2 separate regions of the Homo sapiens genome follow, and region 1 is linked to region 2. Evidence: fine-mapped expression QTL. A gene starts in region 2. The other region holds a variant in brackets. All regions are shown on one strand. Distances are between the middles of the regions. Region 1 overlaps BACH2 (BACH transcriptional regulator 2). Region 2 holds the start of BACH2 (BACH transcriptional regulator 2).

Region 1 (8,332 bases), 370 kb before region 2:
CAGGAAGTATTGTGTTCACTTGTACCACGAAGGCATAGGTGCTCAGTGAGGAGAATTGGAAACCCATTTCTGCTCACGGCACCTTCACCAGCTGCTGTTAAACATTAAGTACAATCTTGCTAATGCATCCCAAGTGGTGGGGCAGAGTTGGGTGAGGTGGTGGGTTGGAGAAGAGTGAAAGACTCTAAAATGATTTCAAAGAACAGCTCAGTTATTTCCAAATACATACAACAAAACTGCTGGCAGGGCCTGGTGTAGAAGGAACCTGTCCTCACTGCCCCAGAGGCAGATACAAATTTCCCATAAGAAGCACATGTAAAGTAGGAAAGAAAATGGCTGCTGTCCACCTGGGGCTGGACAGTGCTTAAAAGCTCTTTTGTAGCCGCGATTCCCAACCTTTTTGGCACCAGGGACTGGTATCGTGGAAGACAAATTTTCCACGGACCAGAGGCAGCGGGGGTGGGGGGATGTTTTCGGGATGACACCGTTCCACCTCAGATCATCAGGCATTAGAGTCTCATAAGGAGCTGCAACCCAGATCCCGCACATGCACCGTTCACAGTAGGGTTCGCGCTCCTATGGGAATCCAGTGCCACCGCTGATGGGGCAGGAGGTGGAGCTCAGGCAGTAATGTTCACTCCCCAGCTGCTCACCTCTTGCTGTGCGGCCTGTTCCTAACAGGTCATGGACCGGAACCAGTCTGCGGCCCAGGGGTCGGGGACGCCTGTTTTGCAGGACGCAACAGCTGGTGAGGTTTATTTTCCTTCAATGCATGACCATTATTTGTATCACAAGAGCAGATGTCAGGGTTGAAGGTGCACATGACCATCAGTTCTAAATTACCAGGTTTTCCCACAGAAAATTTTGGGACTCTGACCCACCTGTTTTTCTCAGAGTGGATTAACTTCACATCTTCAGGCGTAGGTAATCCGCCTCTTGTACCGAAAATGTTATGACTGCGACGTTGTCACAGCAGCACACATTTGCAAAACCCATGACCTGCTCTCAGGAAGCCTTCCTTGACTCCATAGGTGCCCATGGAGACTCGCCCGAGGGAGCAGAACTTGGCAGTTTTTAATTTCCGTTTTCCCATCTGGCGGTCGCATGCACTCCTTGAAGCGTGAATCTCGGCAGCACAGCCCTGCCCTGCCCGGATACCATGCGCATGCACTGGTTACAGCCTCGCTGACAGCTCAGACCCCCCTGCTCTGCTCTAGTGGCTTTCTCTCACCTCCGAGCTCCAGTCCAGTGTTCGCTCATGGTCACTCGACCTGCCCACCATTTGATATCTTGTTTTCTCTTTACATCAAAATCGAAGACATAACTATCAAATACACTTTTAGAATACAACTTTTAAACTGTACAGTCATGCATGGCATAACCATGTTTTGGTCAATGATGGGACGAATATATGACAGCGGTTCCATAAGATTGTAAACCCTATTTTTACTGCAACTTTTCTATGTTAAGATACACAACTACTTACCCTGGTGTTACAATTGCCTACCATATCCAGTACAGTTACATGCTGCACAAGTTTGCAATCTAGGAACATCTAGTCTAGGTGTGTCATAGGCTTTCTCATCTAGGTTGGTGTGGCACACCCTGATGTTCTCACAATAGGAAATTGCGTAAGGATGCATTTCTCACAACGTACCCCCTTCACTAACCAATGCATGACTGTATGGATTCCTCAACCACAATTCTAAACATCTTTCCTTGCAACTCACTGCATCTTGGTGTTGGCTTAATGTTCTTTCTCATTTACTTTCATTTAGTTTTTAAAAAATTCAGCCTATTTTGGATATAATTGCAGATTCACATGCAGTTGCAAGAAATGATACCCATCACCCAGTTTTCTCCCGTGGTAACATTCTGCATAGCGATAGCACAATATCAAAACCGAGAAATTGGGTTTAAAGCCTTTTATCTACTCTCACAGGCACTAGGGATTTTTAAAATTCAGAGTTTAGGAATCACATTAATATTATCCAATTTTAAAGATTCCTAATCAGATTAATCAGGTAGCAAGTAAGGGTCCAAACTAGAGGAAGAGAAATGGCCTCTAGGAAAAAAGATTTCCTGAGGTTTCTCACTCTGTAATTTGGAACATAGGGATCAGAGGCAGAGAAAATCAGTTTACAATGCATAATGATATGTCTTTATTTCATCAACAGAAATGGTGTCTAGACAAAATTCAGTTAACACTAGCAATTCAATTGAGTGAAAACTTTTTTTGCACAATAGTGTATTTACAATGAGTAAATGAAGTTTCAATTCATTAGTTCATAGCAATGCTTTTTTCCCCCAAAAGGTAAAAATTCTTAGTTACAGAGAATAAGCATCAACAGCCTTTCATTTTTTACAATAAAAACCACGAGAAAAACCACAATCACTTAGAAAAAAATAAGGACAAGCCTAAGAACTAGTACAATAAAATGATGCATTGAATTAAATTACATTAATCGCATAGAATCTGTGTAAAAAGTATGTAGAAAAACACCTGATGTAACCTGTTACAGTCGTTGACCAGTTATGAGAGGTACAGAGGGTTATACAGGTAGATATGTGTGAAAACTGTCCGTATTGTTCAACCTGGGGAGGAAGAGAAGAGGGGCTGCAGCCCCTTGCATACACTGAGAAGACCCTGTTTTGAATATGGCCTCTGGAGTTTGTAAGGCATATATTAGAGGTGCACTTGCATCAGACTGGTTCTGGAACAAATTGTCAAATTGTCACAGGCTCTCTTGGCCTCACTAGCAAAGGTGGTGCTTGCCTTGAATGGCTCACTGTGTCTAACAAGCACCTGAAGCTCCCAAATGCATATGGAATCTTCCTGATCACTCACTAGAGGTGCCATGTCTTTATGTCAGAGCGTGAAACGGGCATCCCAGGATTTGCACACACAAAATACATTGTTAGGACTTAAGGGGAGGTCATAGTTCTGCCTCCAAACATGTTTTGGTAGAAGACTGAGCATCCATCTGTAGGAAAACCCCTCTTTGTCCAAGTCCCTTCACTCTTTCGCAACATATGCGTCTGATTATTCCCATGGGAGCACTTGGCACTGAATGTGAGTCTACCTGAAATGAATGGTCTTGGTGCACACTTCTGCTTCTAAGAAGGGCCAGTGTTTTATCTGAGGTCAATAAACTGGAATGAGAATGAAAGTCAGAGCTGTTTATCCATTGCTTGACAGCAAAATGCATACACCGTGTCACAACATTAAATCAAAGCTATGAAAGTTGGCCTCTGCAACCAAGTGGGTATTCTTCACAAAATGGCAGCATCGTTTTCATATTACATTTAAAATGCACTGATATTCATTTGATAGAAATATCATCTCCCAGGGTGGAGTGTAGGAAAATACTATAAACTTTTCTTTGCAAGTAATGTTTTTGCACCGTCAGTTGAATAATTTATGCTCAATCTGCCACAATGAGACTTTTCTATGTACAAATGCTATTTGCACACACTATTTGTGTACAGATATGTTCTGTTCTACAGCATCGGTTTTGGACGCTGGGGTCATGAGATGGCTCAGGCAGTACTATAAACATACACTTTCAACACACAATGCCTCGTGCACACAGATTTCCTGTATGAATACCAACTCCACACAGGGCATTGTATTGTGGACTGACTCACCAGAAATTGCACTTCCAACACAGTCTTCAGTTTGGGGAAGAAACACTAACTCATGATACAACGAACAGCTTTATTCTTAGAAAACAAAAACAAAAACAAAAAACACCTTGTTCTTTAGTCTATTTACAGTCATTTGAGGACCAAACTTGATTCTTGCTCCTTCTGGATCTGAGACTCCTCCTAAACTGTAAGCAATAGTGAAGCAGTTTGAAGTCATTTCTAAGACAGCTCCTAGTTTAAATGGGGCATAATGTAGAGAAGTAGGTAGCCAAATAGGGACTTGAGAAAGCTTTGCAGGCAGCTCTTCCTCATTTTGAGAGGATTATGCTACTCCACAGGATGTCAAGCAGCTTCACGGGACAGGAGTTTTTGGTGTCTTAACAGGCTTATCATTTTCAAACCTTTGTCTGTTCCTTCTTTTTCTTCTTCTTTGATGGCAATCATAAAATATTAAAAGAGAAAATGTGGGTTTAGGCCTCTTGACAACAGCATTAAACTTCACACTGTGCACACTTCACTTTAGCCAGTCCTCTCATGAGTCTTGTCGCTGGTCCTGGCTCCTTTTGAAGGAGTAGTGGCAGTTGGCATACTAATCACTAGACTTTTGTTCCCTTCCTTGGAAAAGCAATGTAAGGATTACATCCCGAATTATAGTGCATCTTAAAAGCAGCAAACCTTTAGAAAGACAGTTAATAAATTACTCGCACAACATTCAGTTGCAGACACACAGAGTCAGGTTTTCCACTGCAGCATCATCTCTGATGCCTGAGTCATTGCTGGGAACTCAGAAGATAAATAGCAGGATGGCCTCGTAACTTTGTCGGTTTTTTTTTTTTTAAAGTTTTTCTAACTGTTTTGTTCCAGAATCAGTATGTAATAAAGTTCGATTTTAATCAAGGCACCCCCAGGTAACGCAGAGAAACAAACACATACAGCAAATCACTCACCTGTCCAAAGCCTGACCAACTTGAAAAGAGGTTGCCTGGATACACAAGCAGGACAAAGGCAGATCCAAGGGGAGGACTGGATTTAGGTGGGATGTTCATTAGTCTCAGG[GTCAC/G]TCACCTCCACTGGCTCTGCCCCAACAACCATTCCTACCCCAGCCATTTGGAGACCCAAGCAGGCATCCTCCTAAACAGCCCGTGGTTGGAGGGTCTCTTATTTTTGTAAGAAAAGAGCCTTAAGAACAACCAAATGTTACTGTACTGTGCAAACACTCTTCCTTGCTGTTCACTCACTTTTCTTTTTCCTAAAAGGCGTGGGGTTGACAGAGGGATCCCAGGGAAAAGAGACAGGCTAGGTTTTAAAATTCCACTTGAGGCCGTTTGGATTCTGGTCCCCAGCAAGTCCTCCCTTTGAATCAACCCAGAAATAATTTTGACAAGCACATAGTTCTGAATAGGAAAAGACACACACACATCACATGAACAACTGCACGAAGCTAGTCACTGTTCATGGTGGATTATGAATGAAATAACTTGTGAGAAATCTCTATGAAATTGGAAGATGGTTTTTAGAGCAGTGTTTTTAACCAGTTCCCATGGCAGAAGTTAGGTTGGGGGAAGAGGAAGAAAAGCAAGGCAGGGGTGGGTGGGAGGAAGGTGAGGTCTGAGTTAGGGTGGAGAGAAATAAAGAGGCCCCGCCCCTGCTAGAAATGGCTGCCAAACAGGTCTGGGCTACTGAACCACAGAAACCTGAGGAAATGGATGGAATGTGGTCAAGACTACCAGTTGCACATGAGTTGTTACCAGGGTAAACCTCATGCCAAGAAGCTGGGTTGGACCTGGTTATGATATGAGCAGAAAGTGTTCTTTTTTTAAAAGAAGAGGAGAGGTCACTTGGAAAGGCAACAATAGAGTTAAAAAGCAAAATACTGTCAGCTGACTCCACTGTAACACACGCCTGCGAAGTATCACGTGATTCACATTGAGTTTATATTCTCACTGTCACCAGTTTTCCACAAAGGCAAACCTCATGGTGAAGCACAGAACTGTCCTAGTAGGCCAAGAAATTCCAACAACCATAACAAAAACCAGCAGCTCCAACACAGAGCTTTATCAAGATCTGTTTCAGACACACACACACACACACACACACACACACACACACACACACACACACACAAACAAGAAAAAACAAAAACCCAGAGGCAGGTTTTAAAAGTGGAACTGTTTAAAAAGAAAAGCCTTTTTTTTTTTTTTTTTTTTTTTTTTATCCTACTGCATGAACTGACAAATTTCTGGCATTCATACATATTTAAACATTTAGTGCTAATATTTGTACAGAAAAAAGTTAATAATACTAAAACATATGTTACTATGATTTCACTTTTAGCCTACATCATATACTAATTTCCCCTTTTACATGCAGCTTTAATATTGTCCAAACAATGGCACAAATAAAGAAACAAAGTCAACCATCTATTCCCCACTGCCCACCACCCCATCCCCACATCAAACCGTTCAGGACTCTCTTCCCCAGCCGGGCTGGAGTGGCCCTCGGGCTGCTCAGTGAGACCCGGACCCAAGGCCACTGGAGCGAGGGAGCTGATTCCTCCTCCTCTGGGGCACACCTTCCTGTAAACGTGGCTGGGGCCAACACGGCCCCAGAGCCAAGGGAAGCTGCTCTCTCTGGGTTGCAAGCCAACCAGTTTTGCAGCAAGAAGAGAAAATTATCATCAGGTGAGGGTAGGGTATGTGTGTGATTCGGGAAGGGGACAGGGAGGGTTCCCGGTGATAGCTTGTCCAAAGCCTCAGAATGAAGTCTGCCTTCAGACAAGACACTGGCAGAAAAACCTCAGAAGAAAACTCCAAGCCTTTGGAGAAGGAAAGGAGAAAGAATGTGTCAGCCTGTGTCAGGGATGGATCGCAGATGCCAGGATGCCCTGCTCTCTCCCAATGGGGTGAAGGCAGGACCTTCGGGGCTGTGATTCAAATCCCCTCAGGCCAGATGTCCTGGGAGGCCAAGCCTGGGCAGGAAAGCCAGTGGCTGGTTGGCCCCGTCCTTCAGGGGAGCAGGTCCTACTGCACAACACTTCCAAGAGCAAGCCGAGGCCTCAGGACGTGTTGAAATGAATGGGACTTACTCCCTGGGTGAAAACTTTCTAACTTGATTTCTAGGAGCCAATGCCTGCTGAGTTCTGGTATAAAATCACGGATTCCTGTTTTTCTGATGTACTTTTGAGTGAGATGTCCAAACTCTCTCCCCACTTAGGAATCTGAACATCCAGCATCAACTCTGAACTCTCTATCTGCGTTTAAACTTTGCTTAGGGAAAGGTGGGGAGGAGGTGAAATATAAAAATATTCAAGCAGATTATTGTCTACACATCCTAGGATGAATTCATTATTTGGCAAGATTGTTTTTCCTACATAATTATCACCTGAGTGCTTTTTAATTAGCTAAAATGTTTTACTTTTTTAACTAAAAGCAAAGAATATACAGTATACTTGAGTTATACCGAAGTTACAACTTCATTTAAGAAAATAGGTTTGACCCAAAACTCAGTGCAAGTGGCAAAGTTGACCATTACTGTACAGTATCTGCAAGGAAAACAAAAACAAAAACAAAAACAAACAAAACCCCCCAAACAAACAAAAAACAAACCTACAATGCTCAAATGACACCACTTGGAGGTGCCAAAACCAAACCAAACGAAAAAGAAATCTGAAATAAAACCTTGGGAAAAAGCTTCCAACACTGAATTTTGTCCATAAATAAGTACGAATTGAAAATTGAACTGTGAAGCAAGAAAAATGACCATGTTAACAGTTACCAAACTAGTTCTAGCATCAGAGACAAAAGAAGAGGAATGTTGGAACCTGTTTCTAAATGAGAAATAAGTTTCCAGTTTTAGGATGAGAAAGTTGAGGCATGCAGGACTTTTGCATATGGATATATATATATATATATATATATTTTATATATATATTATATATAATATGTACAGTCTAGCTATAAAACTTTGATGTGTATAGAAGCTGTCTTCAATGAAAAAAATTGAACATTCAGAAGAAATTCCTGAGATAGGGTTTGTGACATGGGCCACTGAGAAAAAAAATCCGTGGTTGGGGCCTAGAGGTGTTGTAGTCTATCCCTGTGAAGACTGAAATTGAGCCACAGACAGACAGTGTCATCACTGCTGTCTTTCCTTGCCTGGGCAAGGGGTAGCACCATTGTGAAGGTAACTATCACTCCTGCTCGAGAAGAGGAGAGGATACTTCGGAACAGTATTGCTGCTAAGACCGCTGTAGTGTGCACCAAATGTGTTCTCGGTTTCTTCGGGACAGCAGATGAACAGTGCCACAGGCTGACTGAAGAACGCCTGGATGGGAGAGGTGTGCGGACTGGGAGGCAGAGCCGAGTCACTAGGTATAATCTTTCCTGGGCTGTTCGTCAGTTGTACACTTATCAGTCATTTCCTGGCAGAAGTCCACGGTCACTGTTTGGCTCCTGGGTTCAAGAGGAGGTCCTCTCTCTGAGAAGGTTCCCGGGTCAGTGCCTTCTAGTCTCCTCCCAGAGGTACAATTCTCGGAGGTGTTGCTGGGTGCCCAGGGGGGTCCGGGGGGAGCCGCGCCTGGCTCCAAGCAGCAGGGCACGTTTTCCCCCACTGCGCATTGGGAGGCCGCAATGTTCTGCTCAGCACCCAAGGGCGCAGGGTTAATACTGGAGGCCGTGGGCAAGTC
Region 2 (8,332 bases):
TGCAAAGTGCATTTTCCTGATGAACTATAATGGATCATTAAATTCCATATCTGAATAACAATACTGTGCACTTATTCAGTGCCTTTCATCCAGGGATTTCAAGGCAGTTTGCAAATAATTAAGCCCCTTACACAGCAGCCAGAGGTGAGCTACTGGAAAAGAATTGCCTGAAGATACTAAGTCAAAGGGCATAATTCAATAGGAAAATAATAAATGGCTTTCTCCCAGGCACTGGTAATACAGAAAGTGAATCCTGATCCCCTCCCTCTCTTTCACCTCACCCCTTCTTCTTCATAGCAGATCCTGACATGCAACATACAAAGAACCAAAAAAGTAACTAACAGGAGTGTTCACAATTTAGCTATGAGTTCAGACACACACTTAACTGAGAAGTGTGTGTCTCCATGTAATCCTGGCAAACACACTACCAACTGACATTTCAGTCCACCTGCAGAATAGACAGACAGCAGAAGAATTTACTCAACACATTCATGATTACCAAATGGCAAACCTGAAGCCTCCTGCAATGCAAAACGAAAATACGGCTCTGCACCAATAAAGTTATGTTCTAACAAAAATACTTTATTCCATGGTTGTGTGTTCCATTTCTGGGACTTCGCTCTATTTCAATGATATTCAGGTTTCGAGAGTAAAAAAAACGTTGGAAATGGGCAATCAATAAATTTCTTTCAAAAACCAGAATACTAGAAGGGAAAACATTTCAGCCACTCAAAGTTTTGTGGTGAAATTATAAACTCCAGAAAAACTGAATTTATAATGGAAATGCTGACAGACCTTTCAGTGGAGCAGTTTGAACGCAACACTGTAATTTGGCAATCTCTCTTACAGACTAAAGACTAATTCTAACAAGATGTCATTTTGACTCACGTTTATTATTACCTGCAAGAATGAAAAACGCCGTTTACTCGGGAGGTGCCCGAGAACCAGGGTGGGGCGATCTCACATTTTAAGCAAGACGCCCGCTGCCTTACCAAAATAGCCCTCTCCGCCAAAGGAGGGGCAGCCTTTCACGCTCAGCTTCTTTCATGTCAGCCCGAGCCTTTGCAGCAAGACGTGCCTTTCCTACATGTTACATTTTAATGATCTGAGAAAACCGTTATCAGCGTTAACATCTCTAATTTTACTCTAAACAGACAAAAGCAAAATATCTCATTAGGCATCATCTCCGCCAAGGTTCCCACTAGGCAGGAAAGGATTTTTATCTAAAGTAATTACCCTTTTTAGTTAAATACACTCAACAGATGAAATTTACAGAGAGTGAGAGACTGCAGCACTAGACAGCGAAGGTGAAAACCAGGAACGCCGCGTCTCGCCGCCCGCGGGCCCGCCGGGAGACTGCGGGTCCGTCTCGCGGGTGGGGCGCCCCGGTCCCTCTCGTTTCCTGGAGGCCACAGGTCACGGCGACGGCGGTGACCGGGAGAGCAGGCTGCGAGGCGCGCCTCATCGGGCCACAGACAAACCACCCCGGCAGCGGCCGCGCCGGAACTTCCCTCAAGTTACCAAACTCGCCTACGCGCGGGAGAGTGCTGGGGATGCCCCATGCGCCCGCGACCCCAGAAGCCAGGAGTGTGCCACCCCTTCACACACTCACTCCCGGCCCTGCACGCTTCCCCTCACGGTCCGAGTTCCTGCAAATGCTTGGCCAGACCGAGGTCGCCGAGATGCTCGCTCCAGTCTCTCCCCTCGTGGGCACCTAGGGTAGCCCGTGAGCGCCGCCCGCCGCCGTCTCCAGCGGCGCCGGGCTCCCGAACACCCGCCGGGTGAGCGAAGCACAGCGGGGCCACGGAGCGCCTCGACGCGGGGACGGGGAGGGCAGTGTCCCCTTCATAAACCAGTCTCCTGGGTGAAGCTTCTGGGGCTTGGAGACTGGAGTGTAGGGTGTGTGTGTGTGTGTGTGTGTGTGTGTGTTGCACCTTGACTTCATGGAGGATCTGTGGGAGAGGAGGTGCAAGGTTTCCCTCTCAGAAGCCTGGCGCCCTTAGGTCTTAGCTACGCGGGACGCTTTCCGACAACCCGATCTTTCGCTAGGAGAGATTCGATCCAGGTCTGCGCCGCGAGGCCCCCAGCTCGCCTCTTCCTGCGACCCTAAACTTGGGCTTTGATTCCCCGCCGGTCGCGGTGGTCCGGGCCACCCGGCGGCGGCTGACAGCTGAGCGCAAAGGCGCCGCGGCCAAGGTCCTCGCGGAGCAGCCCGGGATGCGCACGCCGAGGGTTAAGGAGGAGGCCGCCCGGCCTGGAGCTGGGATCGCAGGCTGGGGGCCGGGACACCCGGGCCTCGCCGGGCCGGGGGCAGGGCCGCGGGTCTGACAGCTGCTGCGGCTCGCGCGGACGCGCGCCTCCTGCAGCCCGCCCTCCCCATGCCTGACTTATTACTCTCTGCTCCTCCTCCCTCTGCTGTTCCAAAACACCCTTCGACGCCAGCAAAATACAATGCGCCTCGGCCGCCGTAAACAGCCGGGAGGGAGAGCACACATTCGGCGCGGCGCGGCCGCCGGCTCGGCTCCCACCCCCTTCCCGTTCCTAGAAAATGCCATAAAAGCGGGCAGGGCGCGGGGAGGGCGGCTGCGCGCCCGGCGGCCGGGGCTCCCTTCCCGCGCCGTTTCCCCACGCCTCCCCGCCCGCCCCGCGCGCCCGCTCCCCCCGCAAACTTGCCCCGCCACCCCGCCCAGCGGCGGGGCCCGGGGCCCGGGGCCCGGGACTCACCTCGCCGGAGAACTTTGCGTCCTTTTCCGCCTCCTCTTCCCCGCGTCTTCCCGGCTCGCAGCCCCCTCCCGGCAGCCGGCGAGGTGGGCAGTTCGTGGGTCACCGAAAGCTCGCGGAGGGGACGCGCATCACATGGCAGCTCGTTCCCAGCCCCCCGAGTGCGCCGGGAAGGGGGAGGGGAAGGGGCGAGGGGAGGCCGGGGGGAAAGCGAGAGCGGGGCGGCGGCGGGAGTGGGCAGGCGGGGTGGCGAGGGCGGCGGCCGCTCACGTTAGCGCTGTGCGACCGCAGCCCGGGCGTGCACGGCCGCTGCTGCCGCTGCTGCTGCTGCTGCTGCTGCTGAGGCGGCGGCGGCTCGGCGCTGTTTGCTCCGCGCCGCGCGGCTTGCGCTCTCCCCGGAACGCCCACACTCTCAATCGCTACATTGTTGACATTCGGCGCTGACGTCACCCGCTCCCCATTCACAATAACTTTACGGGAGCCGGGCAGCGCACCTCCCCGGCCGCTGGGGCGCGGTACGCCCGGCGACTAGCGTAAGCCGCTCCGCGAATGGCGCTCCGGGGGCTGGGGCGGGGGGCGGGGGACGGGGGCGGGCGCGCGCGCTCCGCTGGCTCGCGGGAGGGGGCGCGCCTCATGCCGCCGCAGCAGCAGATCTCCCCGCTTTGTGCGGCCGCGCGGCCCGGAGAGCCCCCTCCTCCCGGCCCGGCTGACCGCCCCGCTCGGCCTGGCCTTCCCGGCCACGAAAGACGAGGGTTGGGGGCATAGCAGGGTGAGAGTAGTGGTGAGGGCTGGTGTGGCACGTGGGGAGGGGGCCAGAGCCCTAGGTGCTGCACCTGGGGAAGGAGAGCAGACGTCGGGACCGGGGATCCCAGGGTTAGCTAGCGTTTTCCCGGAAGGGCAAGAAAAGATGCTCCACTGGCCCCCACAAAGCTGACCGGACTCCCTTTTGGGTGGGGACCGGGCGAGTAAAAGCAGCCTTTTGAATGTTGACTTCTCAATCCTTTTCAGGAGGCCCTCCGCCTGCCCTACTGAGCGAACCTTTAAGCCCCCAAGCCAGTGTTTTTGGAAAGAGAGTGGTCAATTTCAGGAGGACATTAAAAGCCAACCTCCCGGGCTTCAGCCCCAGCTCCTACTGCCTTCCAGCCACTCTCCCCTGCCTTTCCTTTCTGCGGCTCTTAGGATGTTGTTGCTGCCCTTAAAGGCCGTCGTGTGAGTGCCCTGTCAGAAGAAAGCTTGGTGGTGGTTAGGATTTTACAGAAGGTAATTAGGATTTAGGCTGAATGTACATTTGCAATAAAATAAGGTTGTGTTAGTGTTGTGCTGGTGCCTGCAACTTTACCTCTTGCCAAGGCCAGAAAATTCTGCCACGTTTCCCTAAACACCTATAACTTGGCCCTCTTGTGTACAGGCAGTATTCCATATTATTACACGTGGTGCTGATTTTTAATGAATATTATAAAAGTTTGGCTCGCTCTACTGAGAGAAGGATCATAAATCCCCCCTGTAAAACGGGCACTGGCGTATGCTGAGGAAGCAGTGAAGCGTCCTGGGAGTCTTGTGATATCATCTAAAGTGTTGCTCTGAACTACCTTCATTTGAGGGCAGAGTTTTGAAAGGCCCCATTTGGAATGTCTGTGTGGAAAGCTAAGTGATGGCTGAAAGCAAGCTGAAGGTGCTGAGCTAATTTTTCTAACAGCACTGCAGAGTCCCTGCGTGGAGGTCTGGCACGGGACTGTGAGATTTTCTCTGCTAACCGACCCGGCCTTCAGATAAGGAAAAGTCCTAGAGCTAGGAGTAGCCCTCAGTCTCCTGACCTCTGGTCTGGTGCCCCCTAGGACAAAACACCCTGCTTCTGAGGTCCCTGCCTGACCCCTGGCAAGGACAGAGTACTAATTCCTGGTCTGCCCTGGCCAGGCCGTTTCTTATAGTTTTATGGATGGTTCTGTTTCTCATTCCTCATTCTTGTAAGTATGTGTTTGTGAGATAACTTTACGCATTTTAGTAGCAGCAATAAATGTTTTTCTCACAACAAGGGATGCTTGAGAGCATCCGTATGAGAGTGGTGTAGATTCATTTATTTTCAAGCAAGCGGTGGCTGCCCAGCTGTGAGTGGAGTTGGGCACATCAGCGTAGGGGTGGTTGAGGAGGGAAATGAGGCTGCCAGCTGATCTCCCACCTCCATTCTGGATTCTACAAGCTGATCTTGTCAGATGGATACAACAAAGGCTAACAGGTCATTTCAGTTAGTCTGCTTGCCCAAAGACTCAGACTGGAGCTTTTTCACTTTGAGATTTTCAAGCATGAGGTGGGACATTAAATAGAGATGAAAAAACCTAAAACACCTGTGATAGGTTGCATCATCCAGTCATTCAAGGAGGCTGAATTAGGAGTAGTTAGCCTCTCAGGTTACATCCAGCTCTGCAATCATGCACCTCTGGCTGTAAGACGAAATCTTTGCTTTGGATAAGCTTTGAAGTCTGGTAGTGAGTTCATTTTTCTACTTTATTTTCGGTAGTTAGAAGTGGGTTATTTGAATTCAAGCCGAAAAATACATTCAGAATTATGTGAAATTAAAATGGTAAGTCAAGTACTAGACACTCATTTAACAGTACTGCTGCAGAGGTTGGGCTGTGGACAGCCTTAGCACCTCCATCATGAGTTTGCATGGCCACTCCTGGGCTTGTGCTGCTCTGGCAATTTAGGCGTTTATGATGTGAAACAGATCCAGGTCCTTCCCTCTGTATAATCATGGCAGTAAGTTGAGTGGAGGTCAATTTATTTCTCATGCCTGGAGCATTCAACCTTTCCTGATATACATTTTTTTCCTACATAATTACACATGTGTGTTGATCCAGAGCATGGGCTTTGTCTGTGATTCATTTCTAAGCATGATATTTCCAGGGACAATAAATCTGTATCATGGCATTGAAACAAATAAACTTTATTTCTATAATAGAAATCTTCTTGATTGTAGAAAATAAAACAGGAAAAATTAAAATATACAGGAAACAGATGAGGAAAGGAAGACGGACTAAAGACATGGGCAGTTCTTGAGCCTTTGATTTTCTTGCTCTCCAGCACCCTGTACAGGATTTGATGATGTTGAGAAAATATTGTATTTTTTCTTAGGCAGAACAGTAGACAGAATTTCAAATGTGGTACCTTGAATAAGGCATGGCAGGGCAAATTTAACATCCAATGAAATCTGACAAAAGTGAATGGAGTGGGATGCTGTAGGGGTTTCTGCAGACAAGGAACATGTCCTGGCCTCAACTCCTAAAGGATCACTCTGCTGGGTCACGGGAAGTACAGGAATGGAAGCAGAGAGACCAAGTAGGAGGCTATTGAGATAAGTCATTAGAGAGGTGATGGTGATTTAAACTATTAATAGAATGCTAGAATGACAGCCATAAATGGAATCCAGATATATTTTCAGCATAAACCGGACAAGATTTGTTGATGATTCCATTGTAGGATATGAGAGAAGAGTCAAAGGAAATTCTGAATTTTGGACTGAACAGCTTATTAATGGAGAGTTCATTTATCCAGGCGGAGCAGGTATGGGGGAAATGCTGAAACATTTGGTTTTGGATATAGTACATTTCAGATGTCTATCAGACATCTAAGTGGAAAAGGTGAGCAGGTAATCAGACATGGGAATCTAGAATTTAGGGGAGAAGTCCAGACTAGAGATAGAAATCTGTGTGTCATCAACACAGCAACTGGAAACATGGGTGGAGAAGAGGAGCAAAGAGAAGAAGTCTAAGGTTTAAGACCTGGGGCACTCCGACATTTAGAGGTCAGCAAGATGAAGAAAAAAAGATCCCCACAAGGAAGCTGAGAAGCTTCCTTGAGAGAGAAAGGGGCCAGTTCATCCCAACCAACAGAAGGAAGGGCAGCACAGGTGGGGAAGTGCAGGGAGGCTGGAATATCATGGTAGGAAGTATGGGAAGCCGTTGTCTGAGGAATTCTGTTTTCTTAGTGGAGTAAGAAGATAGACCGTTCACTGATAGTGGAGGAGGGAAGGATAGATTTAGGGGATAGAGAAAAGATGTGAACCAGTGCCAGGGATGTGGCAGAATTGCTGGACGGCACAGAGGACCTTGGGGGCCCACTCCTGGGGGCTTTCTGGACACACCACTGCCAAGAAGAGATTTCTCATTGTACAAAATCTCACACAAGTTTTGAAAAATGATCAGGGCAATCCAAACCAGAAAAGCAAAAATTTTGCTTCTAGCTATTGTTAAATTTGGCTGGCAGCCTTTTTCCTTCAAACTGTATATCTCTTATCTGTCCCATCTTCATCTCCTCAAAGATTGCCTCAGTTCCTAAGAAGGACTTTGGAAATAGTCCCTAAAAGAAAGTGATGTTCTTATATTACTATCTATAGTGATCTTCTTCTATAGTAAAGAATTGATGCCACTATTATCTAAAAGCTTATATGAAATAAACTAGTAAAATATGGTATATGAAATAAACTAATTTTTCAACATACACTACTGAGCATCTGTTACATGTTGAGGTGAAAAATTAAGAAACATTGGACTGTATCCTTAAGGAACTTAAATCTACATAAGGAGTCAAAACTAATATACATGAAACAATTGAAAAATGTAATTTTGTATTTGATTTTATTACTTTTATATATTAATATTTAAAATTATATAGAAATTGTATGTGTTATAATTTATACTAATGAAAAAATTAAGAATGTACAGATCTTTTTTGTATGATAGCAAAAAGAAAATGGAAAAATCCAAATGCCTTACAGGAAATGATTGGCTAAATAAATGGTGGTTCATATATAAAATATGAATATCATGGATCCATCAAAAATAATATTGGTGGCTGGGCACGGTGGCTCATGCCTATAATCCCAGCACTTTGAGAGGCTGAAGCAGGCAAATTTCTTGAGCTCAGGAGTTTGAGACCAGCCTGGACAACATAGTGAAACCCCATCTCTACCAAAAATAATAATAATAATGAAAAAAATTAGTGATGAAAATTTATGTATATTGATATATTAATATTTTGTTAGTATAGTTTAACAATAATTTGTATAACTATTTACAATAGGATCCTATTTGTGAAAAAAAATTGCCAGTGCATGCATAGGAAAAATCTGGAAGGCTATATGCACAGTGTTCAAGTGGTTCTCTTGAAATAAAGAGCCTATAAGTGGTTTTACTTTTGCTTTTTAAAAAAATTTTCTGTAATATAAATATATTACTTCTGTAATAAAGGTAGCCAATAAATGTTGTAAAATTCAAAATATGCATAATTAAATTCTAACAAGAACTTAAGTATTGTAGATGTTAAGAGGAAAAACAAATTATGAAGGTTAAAGTAGCCAGAAAAGGTTTCACTGAGAAGGTGGAATTTCAGTTGAACCTCAAGGCCAGGAAGGAGTCAGAGAGGAGGGAAGGTGGCTGGACTTTTAATGCAGAAGGACCCCTTGAGGTTACACTTTCATCTGACTATAGCATTCATATCTTGCAGTGTTGGGAAAGAGTGAGAGGTTGTGATGTCAAGAAGGATAGGTCAGAAGTGGAAGGTATGGGGGATTGTGCCTGCTGTCATGGCTAGCAAGGAGTACTGAAGTACCATGGTG

The links.
Region 1: its variant is fine-mapped to the expression of BACH2 in whole blood (INTERVAL, PIP above 0.99).

The regions. Positions count from the first base shown.
Region 1 is chr6:89,924,394-89,932,725 of GRCh38, forward strand. It overlaps BACH2 (BACH transcriptional regulator 2), which reads right to left. Exons shown (of 9, transcript NM_021813.4): 9 at 2,135-8,332. The coding sequence ends at 8,015. Among named protein-coding and RNA genes, the nearest start is that of GJA10, 34 kb to the left of the region's middle. RefSeq lists a silencer at 3,417-3,711. The variant GTCAC/G (reference allele first, on the strand shown) is at 4,705.
Region 2 is chr6:90,293,756-90,302,087 of GRCh38, forward strand. It overlaps BACH2 (BACH transcriptional regulator 2), which reads right to left and starts at 3,088. Exons shown (of 9, transcript NM_021813.4): 1 at 2,725-3,088. LOC124901361 (a long non-coding RNA gene) reads right to left here and starts at 1,451. Exons shown (of 2, transcript XR_007059676.1): 1 at 1-1,451. It overlaps LOC105377891 (a long non-coding RNA gene), which reads left to right and starts at 3,484. Exons shown (of 7, transcript XR_942778.4): 1 at 3,484-3,981. RefSeq lists enhancers at 1,394-1,483, 4,801-5,302 and silencers at 2,267-2,326, 2,952-3,001.